Linked DNA regions of Homo sapiens. The protein of the gene in region 4 purifies or fractionates together with the protein of the main gene of each other region. This does not show direct contact. Each region holds a gene or a part of one and is shown on either strand. Other genes may lie near its edges.

The links.
Region 1: the proteins of IFFO1 (region 4) and CDADC1 purify together in Homo sapiens (affinity purification with mass spectrometry, with the first as the bait; one large-scale study listed by BioGRID). This does not show direct contact.
Region 2: the proteins of IFFO1 (region 4) and COBLL1 purify together in Homo sapiens (affinity purification with mass spectrometry, with the first as the bait; one large-scale study listed by BioGRID). This does not show direct contact.
Region 3: the proteins of IFFO1 (region 4) and BLTP3B purify together in Homo sapiens (affinity purification with mass spectrometry, with the first as the bait; one large-scale study listed by BioGRID). This does not show direct contact.
Region 5: the proteins of IFFO1 (region 4) and AMOTL1 purify together in Homo sapiens (affinity purification with mass spectrometry, with the first as the bait; one large-scale study listed by BioGRID). This does not show direct contact.
Region 6: the proteins of IFFO1 (region 4) and HMBOX1 purify together in Homo sapiens (affinity purification with mass spectrometry, with the first as the bait; one large-scale study listed by BioGRID). This does not show direct contact.

The regions. Positions count from the first base shown.
Region 1 is NC_000013.11:49,271,367-49,276,136, forward strand, and holds part of CDADC1 (cytidine and dCMP deaminase domain-containing protein 1), read left to right. Parts: intron 1-2,924; coding exon 2,925-2,974; intron 2,975-4,770. UniProt on the Homo sapiens protein: Catalyzes the deamination of cytidine and deoxycytidine into uridine and deoxyuridine, respectively. May play an important role in testicular development and spermatogenesis.
Region 2 is NC_000002.12:164,691,285-164,696,054, reverse strand, and holds part of COBLL1 (cordon-bleu protein-like 1), read left to right. Parts: intron 1-218; coding exon 219-1,786; intron 1,787-3,657; coding exon 3,658-3,834; intron 3,835-4,770.
Region 3 is NC_000012.12:100,086,515-100,091,284, reverse strand, and holds part of BLTP3B (bridge-like lipid transfer protein family member 3B), read left to right. Parts: intron 1-2,189; coding exon 2,190-2,370; intron 2,371-4,770. UniProt on the Homo sapiens protein: Tube-forming lipid transport protein which mediates the transfer of lipids between membranes at organelle contact sites. Required for retrograde traffic of vesicle clusters in the early endocytic pathway to the Golgi complex.
Region 4 is NC_000012.12:6,545,651-6,550,420, reverse strand, and holds part of IFFO1 (non-homologous end joining factor IFFO1), read left to right. Parts: intron 1-524; coding exon 525-665; intron 666-936; coding exon 937-945; intron 946-1,571; coding exon 1,572-1,753; intron 1,754-1,875; coding exon 1,876-1,996; coding exon of another isoform or gene 1,997-2,260; coding exon 2,261-2,356; intron 2,357-4,770. UniProt on the Homo sapiens protein: Nuclear matrix protein involved in the immobilization of broken DNA ends and the suppression of chromosome translocation during DNA double-strand breaks (DSBs).
Region 5 is NC_000011.10:94,868,853-94,873,622, reverse strand, and holds part of AMOTL1 (angiomotin-like protein 1), read right to left. Parts: intron 4,426-4,770; coding exon 4,150-4,425; intron 2,935-4,149; coding exon 2,828-2,934; 3' UTR 1-2,827. UniProt on the Homo sapiens protein: Inhibits the Wnt/beta-catenin signaling pathway, probably by recruiting CTNNB1 to recycling endosomes and hence preventing its translocation to the nucleus.
Region 6 is NC_000008.11:29,011,585-29,016,354, forward strand, and holds part of HMBOX1 (homeobox-containing protein 1), read left to right. Parts: intron 1-3,450; exon of another isoform or gene 3,451-3,538; intron 3,539-4,770. UniProt on the Homo sapiens protein: Binds directly to 5'-TTAGGG-3' repeats in telomeric DNA. Associates with the telomerase complex at sites of active telomere processing and positively regulates telomere elongation.

The DNA.
Region 1 (4,770 bases), on a different chromosome or scaffold from region 4:
AGATTAGGTGTTTTCCAAAGCTAAGGATTATGCCTTCCTCCTGGGCCACAGTACTGATAATGAGAGTAGGCTGGAGTAATCAAGAAAGTTAACTTTTAAAACAGAACTCAGTGGTTCTCAGATATGAGTATGCCTGAGAATCAAGGGGGAGCTCAGGAGTAATGCAGATTCCTAAGCCTTGCCTGCCTCTCTCAGAGAGGTTGATTTAGGGGACTTCCATGGAAGCCAGGAGTTGCCTCTTTTTTTTTTTTTTTAAATTTTAAAAACAAGCATCCAGTAATTTTGATGCAAGAGGACTGTGGAGCACCTTGGACACTGACATGACCACAGGATTGGGAGCTAAAATAACCACACCTGTGTTCTAGAACAAAAAGTTCCCCTCTGATTTTCAGTGATCAAAGAGCCCCAGGAATTTGACTCAATGATTGTAAGTTGACCTTTCCTTCAAAGTTGTACAGAGAAAACCCTGTGAATGACCAGATCATAGGGAGCAATTTCTGTAAAAATTATAGACATGAAAAGATTTTTGAGAAATTACCTCATCTGTCACCAGCCTTGATGCTGAGTGACATCAAATCTGTTTTATATGGATGAAAATTTATTCCTATTTTAAAAGACAAGTAGTAAAGAATATTCTCTTGATGTAACCAACCTTAGCTAGGCAGCAGAGCTGCATGCTGATGGAAAAATCACATTTTTTTTTTCCTCCTAACAAGGTTTAGTCTGTCCCCAGGCTGAAACAGAAAAAGTGGCTTCTGTGACTAAGAAACATAACATTAAAAATATGCAGTGTTGATGGTAGAAAAGGGGGCTTTTAATATGGAGAATTTTTATTCTGGTTTTTTATTTTTTCATTTTAGATTTATGCATAAATTAAATAAAACTTTAAAGATTTTGGTTTTGCAGGCAAATATAATCTTATGTTTATAACTTCTGCCACTTACCTTAGAAATGAGCATAAAGCCATTGATTTGTATTCTTGCCCACTCATGTTAAACTCTAAAGGTCTAGGAAGGAACCCAATTTTGTTTACACCAAAATCCCTTTTCCCTCTACTCTGTAGAAGGAAGTCATCTCGTGCACTCTGCTGTTCAGCCTCATTTATTTCCTTCAGAGCACAGCACATAAAGTACTGTTTGTTTCCTTGTTGCTGTTCTCCTTCACCATCCAACTGTAAGTCGTATGAGGAAGGGACTACAGTTTCCCTCACCACTGCATCCTCAGTTCTCACAGTACTTGGAACATAAGAGGCATTCAATAAATGGAAATTTTTGTCAAGGATTTCTTTTTCTTTTTTTTTTTTTTTTTTGAGATGGAGTTCTGCTCTGTCCCCCAGGCTGGAGTGAAGTGGTACGATCTCAACTCACTGCAACCTCCGCCTCCCAGGTTTAAGCAATTCTCCTGCCTCAGCCTCCCAGGTAGCTGGGATTACAGGCATGCACCACCACACCTGGCTAATTTTTGTATTTTTAGTAGAGACGGGGTTTCACCATGTTGGCCAGGCTGTGTCAAGGAATTCTTTATGTCACGGTGCAAGGTGGAGGAAAGGCCAAGCAGGTTGGATCTGGAGGGCTAAGTTTTAGTCTATTTCTTTGCCTGTTTCTGCATCTAGAAATGGAAATTTTATCTGCTTTACCTTTAGGGTAAAAATGAGATCATGAATAAACATGTTTAACATAAATTATACAAATGCTTTGTGGTATAATTTTGAAAACCAGGGTTTGCTTGAATTTGAGATGGGAAATTTTATTAGAGTATCATAACTGTTTTAAAGTTAACCTCTTAATAAGACATTCATTCTAGTTTTTAATGCAATTGTGGCACAAATTTTCTTTGTACCTTTACTGGAAAGTAGGTATTTAAAAATGTTATCATTGGAGGGATTCACTTTTAGGAAATTGTAGGGTGAAACCACGGTTTCAGTTAATCCTCCCCAAAATGAAAATGCCTTAGGGTAAGTTCACAGATAATTGTTATTTTCTACGTGTAAATGTGCCACTTAACTACCTTAGTCCCTTATTAAGATTTTGATAAATACTATGGTTTTCATAATTAGTGTAATTTGTCTTAGAAATTTGAAACTCAACATTGTATAGAAGGAAAAAGTAAATCCTTAATATGTAGAATTTCTATTTTGTTTTTTAATTTTCTGTTTCAGATTAATGGTTTTAAGAAGTACAGCTTTACTTTTGCAAAGGTTTTGGTTCTACAGGGAAATTATAATCTTATGTTTGTTTATAACTTCTGCTATTTGATTTAGAAATGGGCAAGATGTCATTAACTTGCATTCTTTTTCCCTCAAGGTAAACTGAAGGTCAAAGAAAGGACAACATTTTGTTTAAATCAGAATTCTCTTCATGTACTTTCTAGCAATAGATAGATAGATCCATAAAGATTTGTTTATGTTCGTATGAGAAGTTTGAACTTTTTTCTTAGCAAGAACATTTTCATAAGATATATTTTCCATGATTAGAGTATAAATAATGCTGGGAAAAGACAAATTTGGTTGTTGTGAACAGTTATTACACAAAATCCATTAGTTCTGAAACCTTTATTAAATTTTATCACCTATCAGAAGTAGTTGTTTAGAAACCGGCTTGTTAATGGAGAATCAATGAAGTTGCACTTAGTTCTGGCTACAGCTTTGAGGGACCTGACTGTGGACACTGCCATTTAGTGGCCTCCACATACGTATGTGTGACTGAGTTGGTAGTGACTCTCTCTAGTTATTTGGTACCTAGCTCCCATATTCCATACTTAAAAGTGTTTATTTTAATACTTTTCTGTAATTAGTGAAGATACAAGGATTGCTGCTACATTTATGAAGTATGTTTCAATACAAGTTTTTATTACTTTTGGAAAAATATATTTCTAAAACTAACATATCATAATTTTTACTGAGTTAAATGCCATATATCTTTCAGAGGATCATAAAACAGGAGTTGGGGCAGTCATTTGGGCAGAAGGGAAATCTGTAAGTATGAAAACAATTCTTTAAATATTTAACCTGGATTTTGTTTAAACATAGTTCAGTCTTCGGTGCATTACAGGTTACTGACTGCCAAGGCGGGCAGATCACAAGGTCAGGAGATTGAGACCATCCTGGCTAACACAATGAAACCCCATCTCTACTAAAAAAAAAAAAAATACAAAAATTAGCTGGGCGTGGTGGCGGGTGCCTGTAGTCCCAGCTACTCGGGAGGCTGAGACAGGAGAATGGTGTGAACCCGGGAGGCCGAGCTTGCTGTGAGCAGAGATCGTGCCACTGCACTCCAGCCTGGGTGACAGAGCGAGACTCCGTCTCAAAAAAAAAAAAATATTAATATTTTTGTAATGGTGCATTTATGAAGATCTATAAAGATTTGCTCATCCCTCAACAGTTTTCTAGATAGACGCATTCATTCAGCAAACATTTGTTAAACACTCTCTACAGGTTAGGCACTGTGCCACAGTGAATGCTGGGGATTAAAGATCACATTTTATGGCCTCATAGTTTAGTGATGGAGATGTAGAAGTAAAATATAACTGATATGTAAGTGTAATTATAACTGATATCATGAGAACATAGAGGAGGAACCTTTGCTTGGAAAAATAAGTAAATACTGTTGGTGAATATTATTAATGTTACTAATATAATATTCTTGAAGAATAAGATAATTTCTTCAGACAGAGCAAGTCAATAGGACCAGGAGGATAACATGAATATTCTTGGTGAACATTCTTTTTTTTTTTTTTTTGAGACAGAGTCCCCCTCTGTCACCCAGGCTGGAGTGCAGTGGTGCAATCTTGGCTCACTGCAACCTCTGCCTCCTGGATTCAAGTGATTCTCATGCCTCAGCCTCTTGAATAGCTGGGACTATAGGCATGTACCACCACACCTGGCTCATTTTTGTATTTTTAGTAGAGATGGGATTTTGCCATGTTGACCAGGCTGGTCTTGAACTCCTGGCCTCAAGCAGTCCACCCTCTTCTGCCTCCCAAAGTGCTGGGATCACAGGTGTGAGCCACCATGCCTGCCCTGAATATTCTTAATATTAATATTAATAATGTTAAAATTCTTGAAGATTAGGAGGATATCATCAGGCAGAGCAAGTTAATGGGACCAGGAGAATAACACACAGAGACTGGGGTGAGAGAGAGAATATGGGAAAACGCATTTGATTTGGCACATAGAGTAAGCAACAAAGTGGACGGGACCATGAAGAACTCTATATTCCATGTAAAGATTTTGGACTTTATCCTGGCAGTGACATACTATAGCACAGCACTAACCAGTAGAGAGAAAAGGCAAGGCTCAAACTGAATTTTAAATTTTCTAGGTGTTATATATATATATATATATATATATATATATATATATAGAGAGAGAGAGAGAGAGAGAGAGAGAGAGAGAGAGAGAGAGAGAGAGAGAGAGAGAGAGAGAGAGAGAGTCTCACTCTGTTGCCAGGCTGGAGTGCAGTGGTGCAGTCTGAGCTCACTGCAACCTCTGCCTCCTGGGTTCAAGCAATTCTCCTGTCTCAGCCTCCCCAGTAGCTGGGACTACAGGTGTGTGCCACCACACCCAGCTAATTTTTGTGTTTTTAGTAGAGATGGGGTTTCACCATGTTGTCCAGAATGGTCTCAATCTCTTGACTTCGTGATCCACCTGCCTTGGCCTCCCAAAGTGCTGGGATTACAGGTGTGAACCACTGCAACCAGCTGGAGCCATGTTTTTAAAAGGAAGACAGATAAATTAATTTTAAGAAAATATTTAATCATGTAATCAATAAA
Region 2 (4,770 bases), on a different chromosome or scaffold from region 4:
CACACTAGTTAAGCCAGGGATTCCAAACTTCAGTCTGTATGAATCCAAAGCACGTACTGTTTTCTCTGTATGCTACTACCTACCTTTATATAGTCAGTGAGTTGAAAATTATCTGTAGAATTCAAACCAAACTATTTCAGGTTGGAGAAAGTAGGCATTAAAAACTTGAGGTTTTCTACTTCTTTCATATATTTAACTTGATGATTTTTTTCTCTCAGTAGTTCAAAATGAAATAATTGTCTATCCAGAGAACACAGAAGACAATATGAAAAATGGAGTGAAGAAAACAGAAATCAATGTAGAAGGTGTTGCCAAAAATAACAACATTGATATGGAAGTTGAGAGACCATCAAACTCTGAGGCACATGAAACTGATACTGCTATAAGTTACAAGGAAAACCATCTAGCAGCTTCATCAGTACCAGATCAAAAACTGAATCAACCCAGTGCAGAAAAGACAAAAGATGCAGCAATTCAGACAACCCCTTCTTGTAACAGTTTTGATGGGAAACACCAAGATCATAATTTATCTGACTCCAAAGTTGAAGAATGTGTGCAAACTTCAAATAACAACATATCAACTCAACACTCATGCTTAAGTTCACAAGATTCTGTAAATACCTCAAGGGAATTCAGGAGTCAAGGCACCCTAATTATACATTCAGAAGATCCGCTTACCGTAAAAGATCCAATTTGTGCACATGGTAATGATGATCTTTTGCCTCCTGTAGATAGGATTGACAAAAATTCCACTGCTTCTTACCTAAAGAATTACCCACTTTATAGACAGGACTACAATCCCAAGCCAAAACCTTCAAATGAAATTACACGAGAGTATATACCCAAAATTGGCATGACTACTTATAAAATAGTGCCTCCCAAATCCTTGGAAATATCGAAAGACTGGCAATCAGAAACCATAGAGTATAAAGATGATCAGGACATGCATGCTTTAGGGAAAAAGCACACTCATGAGAATGTGAAAGAAACTGCCATCCAAACAGAAGATTCTGCTATTTCTGAAAGCCCAGAAGAGCCACTGCCAAACCTTAAACCGAAGCCTAACCTGAGAACAGAGCATCAAGTGCCCAGTTCTGTGAGCTCACCTGATGATGCCATGGTTAGTCCTCTGAAACCTGCTCCCAAAATGACAAGAGACACTGGCACAGCTCCTTTTGCACCAAATTTGGAAGAAATAAACAATATTTTGGAATCAAAATTTAAATCTCGGGCTTCAAATGCCCAGGCCAAACCCAGCTCTTTTTTTTTGCAGATGCAGAAGAGAGTATCGGGTCACTATGTGACATCTGCAGCTGCCAAGAGTGTCCATGCTGCCCCTAATCCTGCTCCAAAAGAACTGACAAATAAAGAGGCAGAAAGGGATATGCTGCCTTCTCCGGAGCAGACTCTTTCTCCCTTAAGTAAAATGCCTCACTCTGTTCCACAACCCCTTGTTGAAAAAACTGATGATGATGTCATCGGTCAGGCTCCTGCTGAAGCCTCCCCTCCTCCCATAGCTCCAAAACCTGTGACAATTCCTGCTAGTCAGGTATCCACACAAAATCTGAAGACTTTGAAAACTTTTGGTGCCCCACGACCATACTCAAGTTCTGGTCCTTCACCGTTTGCTCTTGCTGTAGTGAAAAGGTCACAGTCTTTCAGTAAAGAGCGCACCGAGTCACCTAGTGCCAGTGCATTGGTCCAACCTCCAGCCAACACAGAGGAAGGGAAGACTCATTCTGTAAATAAATTTGTGGACATCCCACAGCTTGGTGTGTCTGATAAGGTAACTGTAGCCTTTTTAAAAATAAGTATTCAAATTTAATGACATGGTTTAATGGGGGTTAACAAGCATGTTGATGTTTGTGTGCTACTTAACTCTGAACTCATATTCATCTGAAATTAAGCTATTGTAGTGAAGAGAGTGGTGATACATAAAATCTGATTATTTGCTCACAATTATAACTTATATAACTTGTTTAGGTATTACTGTAAGGTCATCATTATATAATTGTGTCATTAGCAAATGTTTTAAAGTTTCTTTGCTCATTTGTATGATATATTTACTAGTTAATGGTTCTATTTTCCTGTGTTATCTTAATTTGTTTTTAACTTGTCTAAATCTTCTGGTTTATTCTCCAATTTTACATTACTATGTAATAGTAAAGGAAATAGTCTTAATGAAATGGAAAAATAATAGTATGAGAGGCTAGACAAAATAACTGAGCATCTCTTAGCTATGTGATTTCCATCATATACACTCAACTTCAGCTTGCATATATTGTACATTTTCACATATAAATACATTGAAAGCAGAGTTTTAAAATGTAATTTTCTTAATTCCCCATTTTGTTAATTCAGTGTCAACTTTCAACTATAATATGTATGTTGACCAAACTGTTATCTAACCACTATCTAACCTTAAATATTTACCATAAAGGAATGTTGTTGACTTAGTGTTTGGTCAACTAAATGTTGTATTTTGCTAGCTTCAGATAATAGAGTCAAAGGAGAAGATGAAATTCACAGCATGATTTATGATAATCCTCATGCAATTTTAAAGAAATACTTTGTGTACTCTTACTCTGATAGTGTTTAAAGAATACATTCATATTTGTGTGACAGTTCCAGAAGTATTTAATATTACTTTTTCAAACATTCCTAGAGCAAAAGAATGTTAACCATATTGCCAAGTAAATATTTTTCCATAATTGTATAACAACATTTATCTTAATATTTTTCATGTATTTTACATTTATGTTTATTACTTTGATATAGCATCAGGAATAGAAGTATGATACAAAGATTAATTCTTTACTTGGGCACAAAGCCTGTGATTTTTCTTGGAATAGAATACCATTCCTAAACAATGGAAGCTTGGTTTAGATAATAAAGCTTTTAAGTCATTGCCTGAGCCCTGTTTGGCTCATTTTTTGGTAAAGATACGTATTTGGCAGTTTGAAAAAGACATTTAAGATTACTTGATAACATATGCCACTTACATCAGTTACTAAATATTCCTTCCTGAGAAGCGTAATTAAATTTTTTAGTCTTCAGTTTGGAAGTTCCTAATTTTTTATATTGATTCTCATGGCAAAAAATAAAACATGATTAGCACTTAGTCCATGTGACTTCCAGAAACACAAAATAAGCTACTAAGTGTAGCATAGTAATTAGTATTCCTTTATTAGAAGATATATTAGATTCAACAAATATGACATTGTCTATTTGACTGTTTTGCTCATTTAAAAATAGTAATTTCATAGCCTGGTATGTTGAAACCATGAAAATGGGTCATTTTTTAGTTTGCAGTATTTTTTAAAATCTTAATTTGGCTTTTCTAACCAGTTCTGTGTATTGGTGAAGTCAGCAGTATTTAACTCAAGAACAATAAAATTACCACTGTATTTATGAAGCAAAGAGTGGTACCACTTTTCTTCTTTGGCTTCCTGAGTTCAAGAGAGAATAATGCCCTCATCTTCCAGCTTAGCTCTGGCAGCAGAGATAATTCAGTGGGTGAGGAAACAGAGCTGTGTCTGAAACACCAGTGTGGCAAATGGTGATTGTTAAAGAACTATTGATGATGAAAATGTTTTGCAAAAAATGGCCCATTCTTTTCTTGGCATTCATATAAATATTTCACATTTATTTTTGTAGGAAAATAACTCTGCACATAATGAACAGAATTCCCAAATACCAACTCCAACTGATGGCCCATCATTCACTGTTATGAGACAAAGTTCTTTAACATTCCAAAGCTCTGACCCAGAACAGATGCGACAGAGTTTGCTGACTGCAATCCGTTCGGGAGAGGCTGCTGCCAAATTGAAAAGGGTAAGTCTTCTTTATCAGATGGGTGACAGTGGGTTTATTGTCACCATTGTCAAACTAATACTTAGGGAAAAATTTTTCTAGCATGTAAATCTAAATAGGGTTCCCAAAGTTACTCTTCTGTGTCTTTGAAGTATAAGCTGAAAGAGTTCCAGAGTCTTACACGTACTTGAAAAATATGTCAGGTCTATTTTCCACAACATGGGCCAGTTGCAGAACATGAATTTTGTTCATTCTTACATAACTATATAGAGAATACCCTGGACTCTGATTTTAAGAGATTATGTTAGCACCTCGAGAAAGACTCTTTGGAAAACACCTTCCTGTTCCAAAAAAGGTACATTAGTGATAGGAACCTACAAGTTTGTAGTCATAGCTCTTGCCATGATTAGTTACTAACATATATGAGGCTTAGGGAAGAGTTTTATAGGTTAAACCAAAAAAAAGTGCAGAATATCTAGAGAATGTAGATGATAGATAATACAGAAATTCAAATCTTAGTAATGTCCTGCCAAAGTTGTCTAGCTCCTCCTTACTGTGGGGTAGAAGAAGAAAAAAAGAGGAAGTCTGCTTTTTCTCAGGAAAAACACCCAAGTGTCACAGGGAATTCTTTTCAGGTGAATTTCCTCCTTGGGTTCCCTTCATCCACTGAGAAGAAGATGTGGTGAAGCTTTGAACAAGGCATCAGCACTTAGACTCCCCAGAGAGAGTCCTCTCCCTAAACCTCTCTTGTCTTCTCCCCTTAATTCTCCTGGTTGGAAGCACCTCCGCATCTAAGACAAGGAAAGTACTTATTATTCCATTAACTCCCGAGGCATTTCATTTTGTGAATTCCTTCTGTGATCATTTTAAAAGCCATTTAGAGAATAGTAAGAGACTTGTTGAGCAAAACATTGAGCTCAACAGAAATTAAACCTGCAAAGGAACAGGAATGCTACA
Region 3 (4,770 bases), about 94 Mb from region 4:
CTGGGAAGCAGAGGTTGCGGTGAACCGAGATCATGCCACTACACTCCAGCCTGGGTGACAGAGTGAGACTCTGTCTCAAAAAAAAAAAAAAAAAAAAAAAATTAGCCAGGCGTGATGGTGCACGCCTATAATCCCAGCTACTTGGGAGGAAAATCACTTGAACCCAGCAGGCGGACGTTGCAGTGAGCTGAGATCATGCCACTACACTCCAGCCTGGGTAACAGAGTGAGACTTTGCCTCAAAAAAAAAAAAAAAGGATTATTCATGAGGCAGAGAGCTTATAGTGGCCCATTTTTTTTCTTCCAGAAATAGCATCCCAAAACCTGACTTTACCATAGTATTAAGAAAAAGGTTTGTAGGTAGATAAATGTTTATATTTTTATTTTTATCAGTATTTATCTTGATAAGAGAGAAAACATAATGAAAGAAGTACCGGAGAGTATTTTAAATAGCACCATCATAGACATAAATACAGTCTTGTTATAGCTTTGAAAATGGGAAAAGCAGGAGAAAAAGTGTTTGATATCAGTTTAACAATTAATTAATAAAAAGTTTTCTGGAGTCTATAGTATTTAACGTTTTACAGCTATATTTCACTTTGTTTCTTTACTTACCTTGGGCTGCAATCATTTTCATGAAGAGATTCTCATTTACTAAGTATACTTTGCAGTTCTTTTACAGTATGATCATAGTTCTTCATAGATGTAATATGTGTAAATATATATACATGCAAAATACATATACTTTGATTTTCTTTAATTATCTTTAGTTAATAACTTGTTCTAAATTTGAACATTGTTAATTTTTAAAGTGGAAAATTTGGTCTTATAATTATTATAAAAATTCATCTACAGTTTTGTGGCTCATATGTCAGATAATCTTACATTATAGTTATGTATACAAAATAATTTTAGGCTATTAGAGGTTCATATTTATTTTTATATATCAACAGGGTTCTATACTATTTCTCTTCAGGGAGAAAAATATTTGAACTCACAACCTATTTATAAATCCTGTCTCCTTTCTGGCTTCTTTAGTTATTCAAGTTCAAAGGACATACCACATCTTTTAGGAGAGGCACCAGAGCACTTAGAGTACTAAATAATATCACAGGGGCTTCTACAAAGATGTGCTTTATTTCTATAGGATATCATATTAGTCCCTTTTCACGCTGCTGATAAAGACATACCCGAGACAGGGCAATCTACTTACAGTTCCATGTGGCTGGGGAAGCCTCGTAATCGTGGTGAAAGGCAAGGAGGATCAAGTCCCATTTTACATGGATGGCAGCAGTCAAAGAAACAATGAGGAAGCTGCAAAAGCAGAAACCCCTGATAAACCATCAGATCTCGTGAGACTTATTTACTACCACCAGAACAGTATGGGGGAAGCCACCCCCATGATTGAATTATCTCCCACCAGGTCTCTCCCACAACACGTGGGAATTGTGGGACTACCATTCAAGATGAGATTTGGGTGGGGACACAGGGCCAAACCATATCAGATATATAACAGTGTATACAGGGCCCACATTTGTTTTGTTTTTAATATATATAATATTCAAATAAACTGCCTTTAAGAGTTAACTACATTTTCTAAAACAAGGGCTATAAATATGTTAAATATAACTTCAGATATTTACTGAGATATATTGGGTTCATATTTGATTTGTGTATAGTTTTACAGTTTTTTTGTTTGTTTTTTTGTTTTTGTTTTTGTTTTTTTGAGATGGAGTCTCGCTCTGTTACCCAGGCTGGAGTGCAGTGGCACGGTCTCAGCTCACTGCAGCCTCTGTCTCCCGGGTTCAAGTGATTCTCCTGCCTCAGCCTCCCAAGTAGCTGGGATTACAGGCATGCGGCACCACGCCCAGCTAATTTTTTATATTTTTAGTAGAAATGGGGTTTCAGCATGTTAGCGAGGCTGGTCTTGAACTCCTGACCTCAGATGATTCGCCTGCCTCGGCCTCCCAAAGTGTTGTGATTACAGGCATGAGCCTAGTTTTACCGTTTTTAAATTTTAGTTTTATTCTTAGGTAATTCAGAAAATATTTTAGGGAAAATATATTATTGATGAAAAATAAGATGTACTATGGTTATTTTTCATGACTTTCGACTGAAAATACTTAGATTTTTGTGTGAAATTTCCAGTATTTAAATTGGCAGTGATAAGGCAGTTTCGAATCTTTTTAGAGCTCTACAGTAGTCGCATCTGCCCAGCAAGTGAAGACAACGCAAACTTCAAATGCTCCTGATGTAAATGATGCAATTGTGAAACTATTCAATGATTTTGATGTTAAGGAAACCTCCCATCATTTAGTGATTTCTCATCTAGATCTACACATATGTGATGACATTCATGCTAAAGAAAAAGGTAAAATAACTTGCTTATTTCAAACTATTTTGGTTTTTCTAGAATTGACTACAAAACTGGATTGTTTATTAAATCTGTTGTGTAGGATGTCCTGTAAGATAATTTGTCATAATTGTGTTCATATGAATATATAGATGAAAGGCACAACTGGAAGCATATATTGGTATGAAATTTTATTTTGCTTTAGCAGTACTTAAGCTTAATTATTTGTTAGCTATCAATGCTAACAATAAAATTAGCTTTAAAAAAATCAGACTGAATAGATGATCCTCTAGGAGGATGATGAAATATTAGACTCGCCTTTGAATTAACTTTTTGATAATGTTGAAATTGTCTCCAAATTAAATTTTAGTCCATACTTAATTCATAATTATTTGTAGATGTGTTTTCAGCATTGCAGTTTTTCTACCTATTTTGAATAGAAGCACAACTGTGCAACTATTTAACATATTTTATGGCCACCTCTCTTCCCATCCTTCCAAAATTTGATTAGGAAGCAAAATTCCAGTTAGGAATTTTCTTTTAGTTTTTGTCCCTGTTATTTTTCCTTATTTAGTAGATGTAGTTCTGTAATCTAGGCGCTGGGCGTTTTTGTTTCTCTGCTGGAGAGCATCCCTGGCCCAGAAGTGTTGGGGTTGAGTTCAGCAGGTAGGCCTACCTTAAGGACTATAATTCTCAAACTTTGGTGAGCATTAGAATCAGGCTGAAGACCTTTAAACAATAGAGTTATCTGATCTCTGTGCCTCAGATCTGAATCAGGATCTATATCTACAAAAATTTTTGCCATGTGTTTTTAAGCTGAGAAAGTGAATATTGAGACCCTGGATACTTAGCAGTAGAAGTTACCCTGCCTTCATTAGACAAGGCAGCCTAAAAGATTCCAGCCTAAAAGGTTGGAGGGGCAAAGGTGAGGAAGATTCGGGGTTTGTGGAGGGATTTGTTATCTTTTGTTCTGACTACCATTGTGTCATTTGACTTATAGTTGGCATCTTTTACTTTAGAGATTTGAAAGGAAAATCCAAAAAAGTTAGAACAAACCAAACTAAGAAAATGAGGTGGTCAAGATTAAGTAGTAAGAATGAGAATGGAGAAAGTGTTTTCTAAGGCCTTACATTCCTCACTATTCCCTGATAGAATAAATTGAATGATTTTATTTAGGAAGAAAACCTTTTCACCAAAATATCTCCTTAATAGTACAGGTCTGTAATCACTATTGTGAAATCCAAAAGGCTCTGAAATATTATAAGTTTGTGAAAAACTCATTTGGTGGCAAAACCTGACTTATGCCAATACTTTTTTTTATTCTTTGCCTGCTTCCTATAAATATTTATGTTTTGCTGCAGAATTGCTATTTTTATTAGTGCTGCCTCAGAACCTGCTGAGAGTGTTGCATGGTATATCCTGTATATACCGTATCATATTACTGTCGTGAAATCTAAACATTTCTGAATTCTGAAACATTTGGCTTTCCAAAGGTTTTACGTAAGGGATTGTAGACCTGTGCTGAAAATTCTACTAGTTGAGATAAATTGGATTTTACAAATTAATATAGGGAGTGTATACATAGCTATGTCTCAGTTAGTATTTTTCTTTCTTCTGATTGATTTGCCCATTTTGTTTTAAAATTTGATTTTTATGTTCACGTTATACCAATTTGTAATCTACTTTTGATTTTACTATAGCTGTGTGACTTTGGACAACTTACCTAACCTAACAGACTTTTAATAATTTCCCTTTTTTTTTTTTTTTTTTTTTTGAGATGGAGTCTCACTCTGTTGCCCAGGCTGGAGTGCAGTGGCTCAAACTCGGCTCACTGCAGCCTCTGCCTCCCAGGTTCAAGCGATTCTCCTGCCTCAGCCTCCCAAGTAGCTGGGACTACAGGGGCGTGCCACCATGCCCAGCTAATCTTTGTATTTTTAGTAGAGACGGAGTTTCACTATGTTGGCCAGGCTGGTCTCGAACTCCTGACCTCGTGATCCACCCGCCTCGGCCTCCCAAAGTGCTGGGATGACAGGCGTGAGCCACCGCGCCCAGCCTTAATTTCCTTTTCAGTAAGAGGTAGGATGATATGGTGTAGTGTTCAAGATTTCCTGGGTTCAAATCCAAGCTTTGCACTTAACTAGCTGTATGTCCTTGGCCTCTTTGTGCCTCAGTTTCCTTATCTTGAAGATGGGGATAATAATGATTGTACCTATCAAATGCGGTTGTTATGAAAACCAAATGAGTAAGTTTACCTAAAGTATTTAAAATAATGCCTGACATATGGGGAGGCCTTGTCAATATAAAAGTTGTGCTAGTATCATCTGTGAACTCTACCAGGGCAGGGATTCTGCTATTCTTATATTCTTACCTTTTATCCTGGTGCCTTACAAATGAGGGGGGCTCAGTAAATACTCATTG
Region 4 (4,770 bases):
CGGGGCGCTGGGCCGATTCCTCAGCCTCTGAGGCCTCACCTTTGGCGTGGGGAAATAAACGCGTGCGCTCTGCAGGAGTATTGTGAGGGTGGTCATGTACTCGGGACAGTGCCCAGCATGCAGTGTTAGCTGGAAGAGTGTTAGCTGTTGCGATTATTATAGTCCTTTCTCCACTCTTATAATTCCCAGGAGTCTCTTTCTCTCTGGGAATGTAAGTTCTAGGAGGATGAGGACCGCTAGTCGTTCCAGTGAGCCCCCTGCATGTCCCAGGCACTGGCCATGCCCTCCAGGGCTTCCGTTTGGCCAGGGAGCAGTGGCCCGAGCCGCCCCATGCCCAGCATATTCACACAGTGCTGTGGGGAGGCCACCGCTACCCAGGAAGAGGGGTGCAGTCAGCTCAGGGAGACTCCACAGAAGAGGCACCGGTGCAATGTGGTGGGAAGGATGAGGACCTTGCCAGGCCTAATTCGTCCTTGTCTGGAGAACTGGGCGCCTCCTCACTGTTCCCTGGGCTCCCTGGACAGAACCTGTCGGAGCTGGACACCAAGATCCAGGAGAAAGCCATGAAGGTGGATATGGACATCTGCCGCCGCATCGACATCACCGCCAAGCTCTGCGATGTGGCTCAGCAGCGCAACTGCGAGGACATGATCCAGATGTTCCAGGTGAGGACGGAGCTGCCCTCTGCTCTCAGGGGTGGGTGGGGCAGGTGGATGCTTCCGTGGCGGCTGGCCTGGAACGCAGGCCCTGCCTCCTGCTTGGGGAGCCTTACCTGGCAACTGGGGCCCTCACGGGGCTAGACTGGGGGGTAAGGAGCAGCATCAGGAGGGGCATCGTGGAAGCTGTCTCTAACGCCGTCTCTCCCTTCCCCCTCTCTCTCCTCTGTCTGCTTCCTCTCCTCTCTTCCTCTCATCTTCTCTCTTGCTTCCTCCACAGAAGAAGCTGGTTAGTTTGATCTCACGCAAGCTTATTAATGTCCCAGTCCCAGTTTCTAAGCTGCCTAGGCCTCCTGGCCCTCAGTTTGGGCCCGCTGGGCTCTTGAGCACGGATTTTTTTCTGCCCTTTCCCTTTTCCTTGCTCTTCCCCCTTTTTCTCTCTATCTCTTGTTCTCTTGACTGCATTTCTTTCTCTCCCTTCTCCCCCGGCTTTCCAGATCTGGATGTGATTCAGGTTCTCTTTTGTACACATTGCACACTCATCCTCCTTGCGTCCTAAAGCTTTTTTTTTTTTAGTTGAGTCATTTAATCAAAAAGACTTTTTTTAGAAAAAAATTTCCTCTTGAGCCATCATGCACATCTGACTGCAGCCCCAGCGAGCCCTTCCTTCCTTGTCTGACTGCTCTTCTTCTCGATTTCTTCTTGTTCTGCCTTCTCGGTTTGCAGCCCTGACCCCCGCTGTGTGTCTGGCCCTTGGTGACTGTCCGTGTTTCTGTTCCTGTCATTGTAACTGTGACTTTTCTCTCTGTCTGCCCCCCCTTCCTACTGGTTCATGCTTCTCCCCCATTCCCACCCTCTCTGCCCGGCCTCCCGCTCCCGCCCTTTCTCCTCATGCACCCGGCCTCGTCTCTGTAGTCTCTGCACTTGTCTCCCATTAAGGTCCCATCCATGGGGGGGCGGAAGCGGGAGCGCAAGGCTGCCGTCGAGGAGGACACCTCCCTGTCGGAGAGTGAGGGGCCCCGCCAGCCCGATGGGGATGAGGAGGAGAGCACAGCCCTCAGCATCAACGAGGAGATGCAGCGCATGCTCAACCAGCTGTGAGTCCGCAGGCCGTGCTCCCGCAGCACCGACGCCACAGCAGCCCAGGAGGCCGGAGCTCCCCAGTCCCCCGCCAGGACGAGGCCCCGCCCGCCCTGACACCCGGGTTCCCTGTCTCTAGGAGGGAGTATGATTTTGAGGACGACTGTGACAGCCTGACTTGGGAGGAGACTGAGGAGACCCTGCTGCTTTGGGAGGATTTCTCAGGCTATGCCATGGCAGCTGCAGAGGCCCAGGGAGAGGTAACCTCTGCTCCCGGCCTCAGGGCCCTCTGGCTCTGCCTCTCCAGCCTGAAGCCCACTCCCCCGCTCCTCTCCTTGCTCTGTCCCCCCATGTGGCTGTCATCCTCTACCTGCGTCTCCCCTCTTCCTTTATCCTTTTGCTTTTCTTTCTCCAGTTTCTTTAACCAGACTTCCTCTCTCTCTCTCTCCCTGACTTGGCCCTTTGGAATGCGTCCCATCCCATCCCTCCTTGGCTGGCCTCCCCCGCTTCCCTTTCTACTCCAGCAGCAGGAAGATAGCCTGGAGAAGGTGATTAAAGATACGGAGTCCCTGTTCAAAACCCGGGAGAAGGAGTATCAGGAGACCATTGACCAGATAGAGGTAAGGGCAGGAGCGGAAGCCAGGGGCGTGGTGTCCCAGAGGGTTTTGAGTGGGGCTGCAGGCGCAGTGGCCTCATCCCTGCTGCAGGACCCTAGAGACCAAGGTCTTGGGAGGAGGAGTGATCTCTCAGCTATAGTCCTCCTGGTGGGCTCTGAAGACCTCAGGCTCTGGAAACAGACAGATATCGGTTCAAATCTCAGCTCTGTTACTTACAACCACCCTGAACTTGTAATAAGTTACTTGTTCCCTCTGAGCCCCTCCTTTCCTTTCCTTTCCTTTCCTTTCTTTCCTTCCTTCCTTCCTTCCTTTCTCTCTCTCTCTCTCTTCCCCTCCCCCTCTATCCCTCCCTCCCTCTCTCCCTTGTCTTTCTGTCCTTTCTTTTTTGAGACAAGGTCTCACTCTGTTTCACTCTGTTGCCTAGGCTGGAGTGATCCTCCCACCCCAGCCTTCTGAGTAGCTGGGCCCACAGGTGTGTGCCACCATACCCAGCTAATTTTTATTTGTATTTTTTTGTAGAGATGGTGTCTCCCTGTGTTTCCCAGGCAGGTCTTAAACTCTTGGGCTTAAGTGATCCTCCTGCCTCGGCCTCCCAAAGTACTAGAATTAGAGACATGAGCCATGTGTCCAGCCCTACACCTGTTTCTTTTTCTTTCTTTCTTTCTTTCTTTCTTTTTTTGAGACAGGGTCTTGCTCTGTCACTCCAGGCCCACTGCAGCCGTGATCTTCTGGATCCAAGCAATCCTCCTACCTCAGCCTCCCAAGTAGCTGGGACCACAGGCGTGTGCTACCACGCCCGGCTAATTTTTTGATTTTTTTTACAGAGAACAGGGTGTCACTATGTTTTCCAGGCTGCCCTCAAACTTCTGGATTCAAGCAGTCCTCCTAACTCGGCCCCACAAAGTGTTGGGATTACAGGCATGAGCCACTGTGCCGGGCCTTTTTATTTGTAAAATGAGGAATTTAATAATACCTCACCTATAGGGTTGTTTAGAAGATCAGATGAAATAATGCATATATAGAGCTTAGGGCAGTGTCTGGCTCATAGCGAGTGTAGCATAGTGGGGACTGTTTTATTATTATTAACACTATCAGTGCCATGGCACTCAGAGATGGACTGGGACTTTCCTGTTTCTTCCACTCAGCCTTTGAGATAACAGAGAAATCTCCATGCTTTTTCCCAAGCCTTGAAGTACCTTCTAGAGGTACCTAGAGGCAAGTGGAGCTGGTGCTTTAGCTCAAACTCTAGGCTTTAGGAGCTGCAAGAAGGATTTGTGGAGGCCGGGCGCGGTGGCTCACGCCTGTAATCCCAGCACTTTGGGAGGCCGAGGCGGGAAGATCACGAGGTCAGGAGATCGAGACCATCCTGGCTAACACGGTGAAACCCCGTCTCTACGAAAAATACAAAAAAAAAAAATTAGCTGGCCGTGGTGGCAGGCACCTGTAGTCCCAGCTACTCGGGAGGCTGAGGCAGGAGAATGGCGTGAACCCGGGAGGCGGAGCTTGCAGTGAGCCGAGATCGCACCACTGCACTCCAGCCTGGGCGACAGAGCAAGACTCCGTCTCAAAAATACAAACAAAGGAAGAAGGATTTGTGGAACCACAGAATGGAGGTTGCTGTTGCTGTGGGAGGAGGGATGGACGGGACCCCCGTGAGCTCTCCTGGCCTGGTGAGGTGGTCCTTTCCCGACGCTCTGACTTTGGGAGAGGCATGGAGCCTTCTCTGCGTCTCAGCCTCTCTTCAGGCCCACATGGGAGATTCATACGTAGTCCCCCCTTATCTTCAGGGCATGTGTTCCAAGACCCACAGTGGATGCCTGAAACCAAAGATAGCACTGACCTCCTGATAGCTTGGGTCCAGTTGCTGTCAACTGGAACGTGTTTCTGTTCATGTCTCCCACCCACACATTCAATGCCTTTTCTATCTTAACTAAGCACTTAGCGTGCGCTGTGGCGGTACCTTTTGCAGTTCGAGGTGTGACAGCAAAACTGGCACAAATTTCTTTTTCCTTCTTTACAATTTCACGGATAGAAGATTCATTCTTACTGTAGAGCTTACCAACCTCAGCATCGGATTCTTTTTCTTATTAAGTTGAAAACTTTTACCTTTTCACTTAAAGGGAGCATATTTTGGCTTCTCTTTCACATATCCAAATTGCCAGCATCACTACTCTTGTGCTTTGGGGCCATTATGAAGTAAAAATAAGGGTTCCTTGAACACGGGCACTGCCATACCACGACAGTCAATCTCATCACTGAGATGGCTCCTAAGTAACTAATGGGCAGGCAGTATAGACAGTGTGGATCCTTGGGACAGAGGGAGGGTTCATGTCCTGGTCTGGATAGAGTGAGGTTTTTTTTTTTTTTTCCGAGACGGAGTCTCGCTGTGTCACCCAGGCTGGAGTGCAGTGGCTTGA
Region 5 (4,770 bases), on a different chromosome or scaffold from region 4:
AGGGACTTAACCTTTCTGAGCCCATTTCCTCATCAGTGAAATCAGAATAATAAACGCACCCCCTGTACTCCAGGTGGGTGGAGGACTAATTAAAAGGTATTTACCACACTGTTTGCATACAGTTGACACTAGAAAATATAGTTGCATTATTTTTCTGAAAATCTGTTTAAGATATTGTAAGCTGCCCAGAACTCAGAGCAGGTACTCAGTATATGGCCGGACTTCAGGAAAGCTCTAATGATGAAAGAATTTAGTGCCCTGGCTTGGCAGGAAATTTCCCATAGAAGAAGACATTTTAAAGCTATAGATCCTGTTCTTAAGGAAGAGTCTCAGTAGGTTAAGAGAAAAAAAATACGGTCAAAGTCCAAAATACAATGCCGTTGAAGCCCTGAAACATGGCGATGTGTCTGTTTACAATGAAAACACTTGGCAGCTCAGGGGGACCTCGAAGAGCAAGCAAGTCTGACACCTGATTGGGGCAATCAGGTGTCTGGGGCATGAAGACGAGGCTTCGGGAGAAACAGCTGGGTCTCTCACTCTAACCTATGTCTAAGGGAGGCAGCCCAAGTTTGGGGTGGCCCAGACCTGATGGTAGGGGCTGGCAGAGTTGATTTACCTTCCTATCTCTAGACATTTTCCTTTCTGGTCCATCCCCAACATAAACTGGGGTCAAAATGTCCTTAAGAGAGTTAGCTGTCATCTCCTAACTCATCTCCTATGAAATGTGGTGGGAACAGAGATTAGGAAGGGATGTCTATGCCCTCTCCCCACCCATGTCCATCCTCAACCCTTTCCCCCATGGATGAGGCCTCCTGTGCCCTCTTCCCACACCCTATGGCATGGGGTGAGCTCCATGCTCAGCCTCTCAGAGCTCCTCAGTTTTCCTGTCTGCACAACAGGTACTCCGATGCTCAGTGTGAGACTAGAGGAGGTGATGAGCAGGTGGCACAATGTGCAGTGCCTATGGCCAAGCAGAGCCCCAGAGGGCCAGTTCCCACTCCTCTGTCGTACTGGGTGGCACAGAGGCTGGCCAAAGCCACTGATTTCTTCCCTTCCCTCTCCAGCTTACACCTCTTGTCTTCCTTCTGTCACCTCAATTTGGGGAGGCTATAACTTCACCGGGGTTACACACCCAAGACCAGTCCATTTTAGGATCCAAGCAAAGTTTCCTGAGTAGCACTCTCTTGAGTGTTTCATTTAGAAGGTACTTGGAAGAGGTACCCCCCTTTCTTTCTTCCTCTAAGTAAGCATGAGCAAAGGGAACTGGGAAAACAGCGATCCAGCTGACCTGGAGGTACAAAAACATCAGGACCCTGTAGGAGCATCTCTCTGATGGCCCGATGAGCTTCTCCTCTTTTCTAATCCAGCATCTCTTAGATTTGTAAAGGAAGCCAGTGTCTGCAGAGCTGAATATGCAATGTCACAGCAGAGGTCTAATGGACCCACCACCTAACACACTCCTGCCTCTTTTCCGTGGCACTTCTGTCTCACTTTGAATAAACTGCCTCAAAACTGAAACCCGGAAAAACCTGACAACACTGTATATACAACTGGCCTGGTAGGTTACAAAAGAAGTTCACAACAGAGGCAACCTGGTGCCACGGAGGTCTGGATGCTGATCGAGAGCAAGCAGAGGCGTGCGCGGGGGAGGAAAGAGTGTGAATACGCTCATGAGCCTCAATACAAGAAGCTATACGGGAGGCTGGTGAGATTCTGGAAACCACTGAGACAACTGTCTGTAAATTGTCATCTGTTTCCTGGAGTGCTGTCCTAAGTCTTCCCCAAACAGAGCAATGGAATTTGGAAATGTCAAGCTCCTTGCAAGACAGCCGATGTGAAAGACAAAAAAGCAAGTGCCACGATCTTAATGCAATATGTCACAGGGACCCACGGAATCTCCTGCCTCCTCAAAGCTTGCTTAGTTCACAGTCAGAATGAGGTTCGCAGCTGCAACCCAGCTATGCAAAGGTGAAGCAGCCAGGAAGTCGGCACGTGGCTTTGTCCTACTGGTCACTATCAAACACAGTAGGAATGATGACAGTTCAGGTACTGGTCTCATAAATCCCATACCTAAGGAATTCTGCTATGTCTTATTAAAAAGAAAAAAATGAAGGAACAACAAAAAATTAAAGACTGTAAAGCAGAGACAGAGATGAACTCAGAAGTTAGGATGGATGGGGACCGAGATCATAATCTATCCTGTTTAGAAAATACTGCAGAATTCAGAAAAGCTAAGAAGCCCAATCATCTCTTGAAAATCCAAACCAAACAGGTAATTAGGTGAAGACCAACTTTCATATTCCCCTCGCCCTCGATGCTTCTTCTCACTGCCACACTCACACTCACGGGACACCCCATGGTTGGCACAGGTGACACTGCATTATGCCAAGACAGGCTCTCAAGATTTCCTGGAGGCTTTTCTTAAATCAAACATGCTAAGAGGCAAGGAGAATGGGGGTATTCCAAGGATGATCCACATTTGGGTTTATCTGTTTATAATCAGAGAATGGGGGTACACAGGCCCTCCCCAAGAGATACATTTTCTGTACAATGAAAAATTCAGTTTCCTATTTCTTAACTTTGTTTGCAAACCTACACGCCTCTTCTCTCTTCCACCATGTGTAATAAAATCCATCGCATTCTCTTCTATCTTCAGTCATGTAGTTTTTGTGTTTAACATTTATAAAATGTGTTCTTATGAGTCTGAAATCTTTATCAGTTCAAATCATTCCTGATTTCCCATCTACAACCTTCTAGGTCTTTCTTCTTTCTCTGCCGCTTTCCTTGTTTGTCAGTGTTCTGTACTGAAATTCCACAGGGATGGCAGTTAGATGAGGACTTCCATCATCTCTCCATCAGGGAACTCGGGCTTGTGCAGCAAGCTGCTGACCCGGCCTCTGTGGTCAGGCGACTTCCCATGGCCAGGAGAGTTCTCTGCCAAATAGAGGGGAAACATCAGCTGCCCATTCCTCAGGAGGGGCATAGGCTTTCCAGGTTCTCTAAAATGGACCCACGTCCGATACCACTGCACACCCAGGATTCTCACCACAGGGCATGTGAGATGATCCAGCCCACAGTGGGAACATGCAGAATGACTGGGCCAGGATTCAGACACAAATACAAACCAGGATGGTGAAGGGAGAGGATTCAGAAGGTGAGGATGACAGTGGGACTCTGTACAGGAGCCCCTCACACCCTCTACTCAAAACTATCAGGTGCATATTCTGAGCTAGGCACTTTTGACAGGTTCTCTGGCTTACTTGGAAAAGAATCACATCTTTAAAAAGTGACAACATTGTATTTACTTGTCTACTTTGAAAAATGAAATAAACAACCCCCTTGGAGGAAACAGTTAACTTAGGGCCCACAGAGCCTGCACCTCCTCAAAAGAATTCCTGAAAAGGGAGGTCCCCATGACCATGATTAGTCTCAGGTTTTAGGATGTGGAGAAGCCAATGGTAGGCTGGGTACTCTCTGGCTACTTAAAGCCTTACCCATTTAAGAACATTTGTGGGATCCCACTGACCATGGCCATGGTACTCCTTTGCTTAAGAGGAGTGCCTTAAGAGGCCAGGTCTATTCTTACCCAGGACACTTAGGGACTCACTGCAAAGATCACCTCTCCCAAGTTGTCTTCCCGTAAATATTTTAAACAGCTCGTTAGTCCTGGCCCAAGTGCTGTGCCACACGTTAACCGACTCTGCAGGTCAATCTACCTTCTCCTTCCATCACAATGTCCTCCACTGAGGCCAGAATCCCTGGTAAGTTAGAGCCCTGAAGGCAACAGTGAACTTGTGCCTTTGATGTACCTGGTGCCTAATTCTGGCTCCCAAACATACCAGAGGGCATTCAGCCCCTTAGAGGGTCTGTTGTCACTCCATCCGGGGAAAGGTTAGTTAAAAAGTATGCATTGCCAGGGTAGTCTCAAGCCGTGCACTCATTTCAAATAGTAATAAACTAGATGTGTCTATATGCATATTTATTCCCGTAATAAGAAAGGGCACACATATCCTAAGTGCATTAGAATAGCATCCCCATAGAGTAAGAGCTGATGGGTGCCCCTGCTTCCTCTCTAGCTCAACAAAAGATTCTCTTAGGCCAGACAGTTCCACAGTTTTCAGGGGCATCAAGGTGGGGTAGCCCACATACCCAGTTTCTCTGCGGTCCCTTTGGCCGCTGGGTGTTTCAGGACGGGGCTGTGAGCAGGGGTCGTGCTCAGCCGGCCGCGGCTGGGAAGGGAGGCCATGCTGGGCCAGAAGAGCTCGGCACTCTTGTCAGTCTGTGTGCTGCTGTCCTTGCTGCCTGTCTTGGCGTGGGCACTGCTGGCTGCCGTAGTGGAGGCTATGGAGGACAGTGCTGAGGTGGGTGGGGGTGGCAGCAGTGGGGCAGAGGCATGCTCATGGTGCTCCTTCCCCAGCAGCAATCCTGAGGGCAGAGAACAGATTTTTCAACATTCTTTTTTTCCTTTTTTTTTTTTTAAATCTAGTCTTGCAGATCTGTTCCTTGTTGATTGATGATTGCTTCATTCATTCATTGATTCATTCCCCAAGCATTTAATAAACACTTATTACAAGGCTGATAAAATAACAAACACTGAGAGAATAAAAAATGGAAGACCTAGTCCCCTTCCTAAAAAATTGTAGGTTTTTTTTGTGTGTTTTTTTTGTTTTTTTTTTTTGGAGTGGAGAAGTAGTTGTCAAGTAAACTGATTATAACTTAATATATAAACTGTAGGATACAAATAAATTATTCACAGGGTGGTATGGACGA
Region 6 (4,770 bases), on a different chromosome or scaffold from region 4:
GGAAGGACGACTAAGGTGCAGCTCTAGGGCCACAATGGCATTGTTGCAGCTGATCTGATAGCCAGTTGTGGAATACTAACTACAGGAGTCCAGCTTTAGCACTGGGCTGATAGTGTTCTTCCAAAGCTGGTTTTTTTTTTAAATTATTGTTATTTATTTTAGCTTTTAGTCTTAATTTCCTATTTTAGTTTATCTTGAAACCAGTATTGGGAAATTAGAGGAAGGTAGAACTAGGGAATTGAAACCAGCAGCATTCATCTAGCTGATAATTAGGAGCTGATTTCTTTAAGTACATAGTGCCTCCTTTTAAGACGTTCCTCTAATTATATGCATTTGTTTTTCAGTAAGATTGCATTATTGTCACCTTTTAAAAAGTACTTTCTATTTTTTGTTTAAAAACCAAATCCTAACTACTGGTTTTCTCAGTCAAGTTTTTCTGTGGGACATAATTTAAAGGTAGCTAGAGATAAGAGGGTAAGTTCGTAATTGCCATTTGGTAGTTGTTGTTGCGTTAACAGCAATTGGGTATTAGCAACTGAAATTTGTTTGTCTTTTTCTTTGCATTTTGACATTTATTATAAAGGCAAATATCACATAGAATTCTTTCTCGATAAAAGTGATTTTGTTTTGTTGACTAAAATAACCTTTGATTTTAGCTAAAGAATTTGGAGCTACTATTATGTTTGGTTAAGATGAACTAAAATTATGTTAGCTTATAGGACAGCAGATCCTTCATTGCAAGTCATTTCAGACCTGATTGGAATCCACCCAGATGTCCCTCAGTTGAGAACTGGTTAAATAAATTAATGGCACATCTGTACAATGGAATCTTATGGAGCCATATAACTACTTTTTGAAGGCAGCTTTATATGAATTAAATTTATATGAGGTGATATGGAATTCATAAGTAAAAAAGGTACATAACAGTATCAAGGGCATATTTATGTAGGGGAACACACACACATACACATGTATATGCTTATCTAAGCATAGAAATCTCTGAAAAGCTGTGTTAGGAACTGGGAAGAATAGCTCTGTGGAGGGGAACTGAGTGACTGGGAGTACAGGGGTAAGGAGTTAACTACACAGCCTAATGTGTCTTTCTAAATTTCATACTATGTACTTGTATTATATATTTGAAAAATAAAGTGTAATAGGAAGGGGGAGACAGACCAAAAGAAATCAATCTGCCTTGTAAGATTAAAAAGAAAGAAAGAAAAGGAAGAAAAACTTAGGTTTATACAGTCCAGACCTGCTTTTGAGAAGCAGGTAGAAAATAAGTTGTCAGTGATTTTTATCAAGTAATTCTTTTATTTCATAATTTTTTTTTCTGTCTAGGAAAGATAGCTCTTTAGGGTAAATGTAAATAGTGTGATCCCTTTACATATATTCTGAGAAGAAAATGCAAAATTAAGAAAAGTCACAAAATGAAAAACTACTTTTTCTTTTTTCTTCTGTAAATTTAAGCATTTAGAAAACAAAAATGTTTGTATATTCTATGACTCTATTCCTGGGCGTTGGAGCATTTCTCTTTGTATACTTTGAGTGAAGTCCTTTTGTTGTTGTTGTTGAGACAGAGTCTAGCTCTGCCACCAGGCTGGAGTGCAGTGGCGCAATCTTGGCTCACTGCAACTTCTGCCTTTCGGGTTCAAGCAATTCTCCTGCCTCAGCCTCAGGAGTAGCTGGGATTACAGGCACGTGCCGCCACGCCCAGCTGATTTTTGTGTTTTTAGTAGAGATGGGGTTTCACCATGTTGGCCAGGCTGGTCTTGAACTCCTGACCTCGTGATCCACCCACCTCGGCTTTCCAAAGTGCTGGGATTATAGGCATGAGCCACCGCACCCAGCGGAAGTTCTTTTTTTCAACCTCTTCAGTCTGGATCCAGTTGTATATGGCTTTTGGTTTTTTGTAAGTTTCTCTTTAAGTGGACTCATCAAGAAAAATAATAGAATGGATATTTAGGTTAATTTTACTGATAACCCGATTGATATAGTGTAGTTCTCTGATAACAGACTCATCATCAGAATTTACCAGCATAAATGAAAGCCTGCCAAGGCATATTAATAAAATAGGCTGATGGAAACTAATCAAATACATTTTATCTTGTTTCTTATGAAAACACTTATAAGAAAATACCTATTTTTTAAAAAAAAGTGAGTGCTAAATTCAGGATGGTTGACATCAAAAGTCCCTTTATTTAATCAAATTAAGTTCACAGTCTTTTTCCCTTGTCTAATTTAAACATTACTATAGCAGACAGGGTTTGCTGAGTTCCTCTTGGCATGTGGTGCATATTCTGCATGCTTCTAAACAATTAAATAAAATTTGCCAAGAGGGTTATGCAGCAAATACATGAGATAAATGTCATCAGAAGAAACATCCAGTCCTTCACTTGCAGAGTGTTAGATCTCAGGGAAACGTGTGTGACATGGGGGAAGATGTGAAATTACTTTTGGAGAGGTTAGTTCCTATGGATGGCGTAGTAATGATGTGCTTATAGTCCCCTCACCCAGAGCTAACCCTGATCAGCAAGGACATTATGATATATGTAAAGAGAACACTTACCAAATTTTTATATGTCTTAACAAGTTATGAAAAGAGTTTTGGGTTTTTTTTTTCCTCATGGGTTTAGATTTGCTAGGTGAAGGTGCAAAATTTTGTTTTAATGGAAACTTAGATGGGGGGAAAAAAGATTTCTGTAAGGAAATAGACAACACACTTTTCCTGTTAGGACCTTAGCCAACCCAGAATTCCTGTATTTTACTTCAGAGGAGTTTAAAGGCTTAAATACATTGTTCCTGCATTCTAGTGTCTTTGTGTTTTTCTGTTAGAGTCAGTAATTTTGAACTCGCTCTTGCTTTTCATCCATTTCAACCAAAGCAAGATGAACTAAGGTTTCCAGAACAAATCTGTTATTAATAGAGTGTTTCCAGAGTACTTTTTTGTGCTGTTTTTAACTACTGCTACATTGAAAAAGAAAAAGGAGCCAGAAAAAAATCTGAAAAGTAATGTAACATTATGTTTTAAAGTAGGTATTTTGATGAATTTAAGATTATTCATTTTTCACCTTCTGTGTGTAAACTGTCTTGATTTCTTTTTTTTCCCCCACCCCGAGATGGAGTATCACTCTGTCGCCCAGGCTGGAGTGCAGTGGCACGATCTTGGCTCACTGCAACCTCTGCCTCCTGGGTTCAAGCGATTCTCCTGCCTCGGCCTCCTGAGTAGCTGGGATTACAGGCGTGTGCCACCACACCCAGCAAATTTTTGTATTTTTAGTACAGACAGGGTTTCACCATGTTGGTCAGGCTGGTCTCAAACTCCTGACCTCAGGTGTTCCGCCCGCCTCAGCCTCCTAAAGTGCTGGGATTACAGGCATGAGCCACCGCGCCCGGCCTTGATTTCTTTCAAAATAACCAGGCCACTACTTACTTTTCTGTCTTCTTTTTCTCCTTTTTTCTTCTCCCCTCTTCCTTTTCCTTCCTGCCCAGTTTTATTTCATCTGAATTTCCTTCAGTTCTTGAGACTGTCTTGACAATACTGAATATTACAAAGAAGCATAATATTAATAATAAACCCCAATACCAAGAAAGAACCATTATTATTAGTTGGCTTATTTCCTTCAACCTCTTGGTTAGGATTCTTTCTGTTCTGTGTTCTATTTGTACCCATTTACCACTCTGCTTACTAAGGAGCATGCCGCAATTATGGATGTGGCCTACTACCTGGAATTCACTGACCTATTGCCCACCCTCCATCCTGAAGCTCTTTCTTTCTTTACAAGGGTCAGCCCCTGGACAAGAGGTTGTATTCCCTTACTGAGTCTTATTTCTACCTTTATCTTGATCAGCCATGATAACCGGTTGGCTCTGTTTTAGTCCTTTTCACCCTTGCTATAGAATAACATTTATATAATTTTAATTAGGTAGATTCCAGAGCTCTTGCTGTGCTGTAATCCCTACTTGTTTTCAGAAAAGCACTATAAGACTGTGAAACCCTCCAGCCCCCAAATTCCTGCTTATGTCTAAACTTAGTTAACTTTCAATTAGGCCCAGACTGAATTCTCAGTTTATTTTGGCAGAATGAAACCCTTTTAAATTGTTTAAAGAAGGGTTTCAGTTTAGAATTTCATGTTGGGTAGAGCAGAAATGTTTTTAAACCAGGGGTTGGCAAACTTCATATAAAGGGCCAGACAGTAAATATTTTAGGTTTTGCAGGTTATATGATCTCTATCATAGCTACTCAGCTCTTCTGCTCCAGTGCATTCATAGCCATAGACAATCTGTAAATGAATGAGCATGAGCATGTTTCAATAAAACTTTATTTACAAAAATAGGCAGTGGGTATAATTTGCCAACTCTGTTTTAGGGTGGGCTGTAAATCTCTAAAGCATTATATGATGACAAACTTACTTGTTTAAGCAGAAATGTTAAGTAGTTAAATATTTACTTTCCATCACATGCTATAAGAAATCACATACATATTAAAGGCTGAAACACAAAATGAAAGATATAAAGATACTCAGTGATATTCAAGCCCATTGGCCATAATACAAAAGACTGACAAATTTGACTGTATTAAAATTAAGATCACAAAGCACACTATAAAAAACAAATGACAGACCAGAAAAAAATTGCATTCTGTATGACTAGCAATTGCTATGATTTCTCTGCACCCATAAGAAGAATAACCCCCTAAAAAAGGAACAACAGATAGAAATTCACAAGAAAAGATATAAATGGTCAATAAACAGGAAAAGATGCTCATTCTTA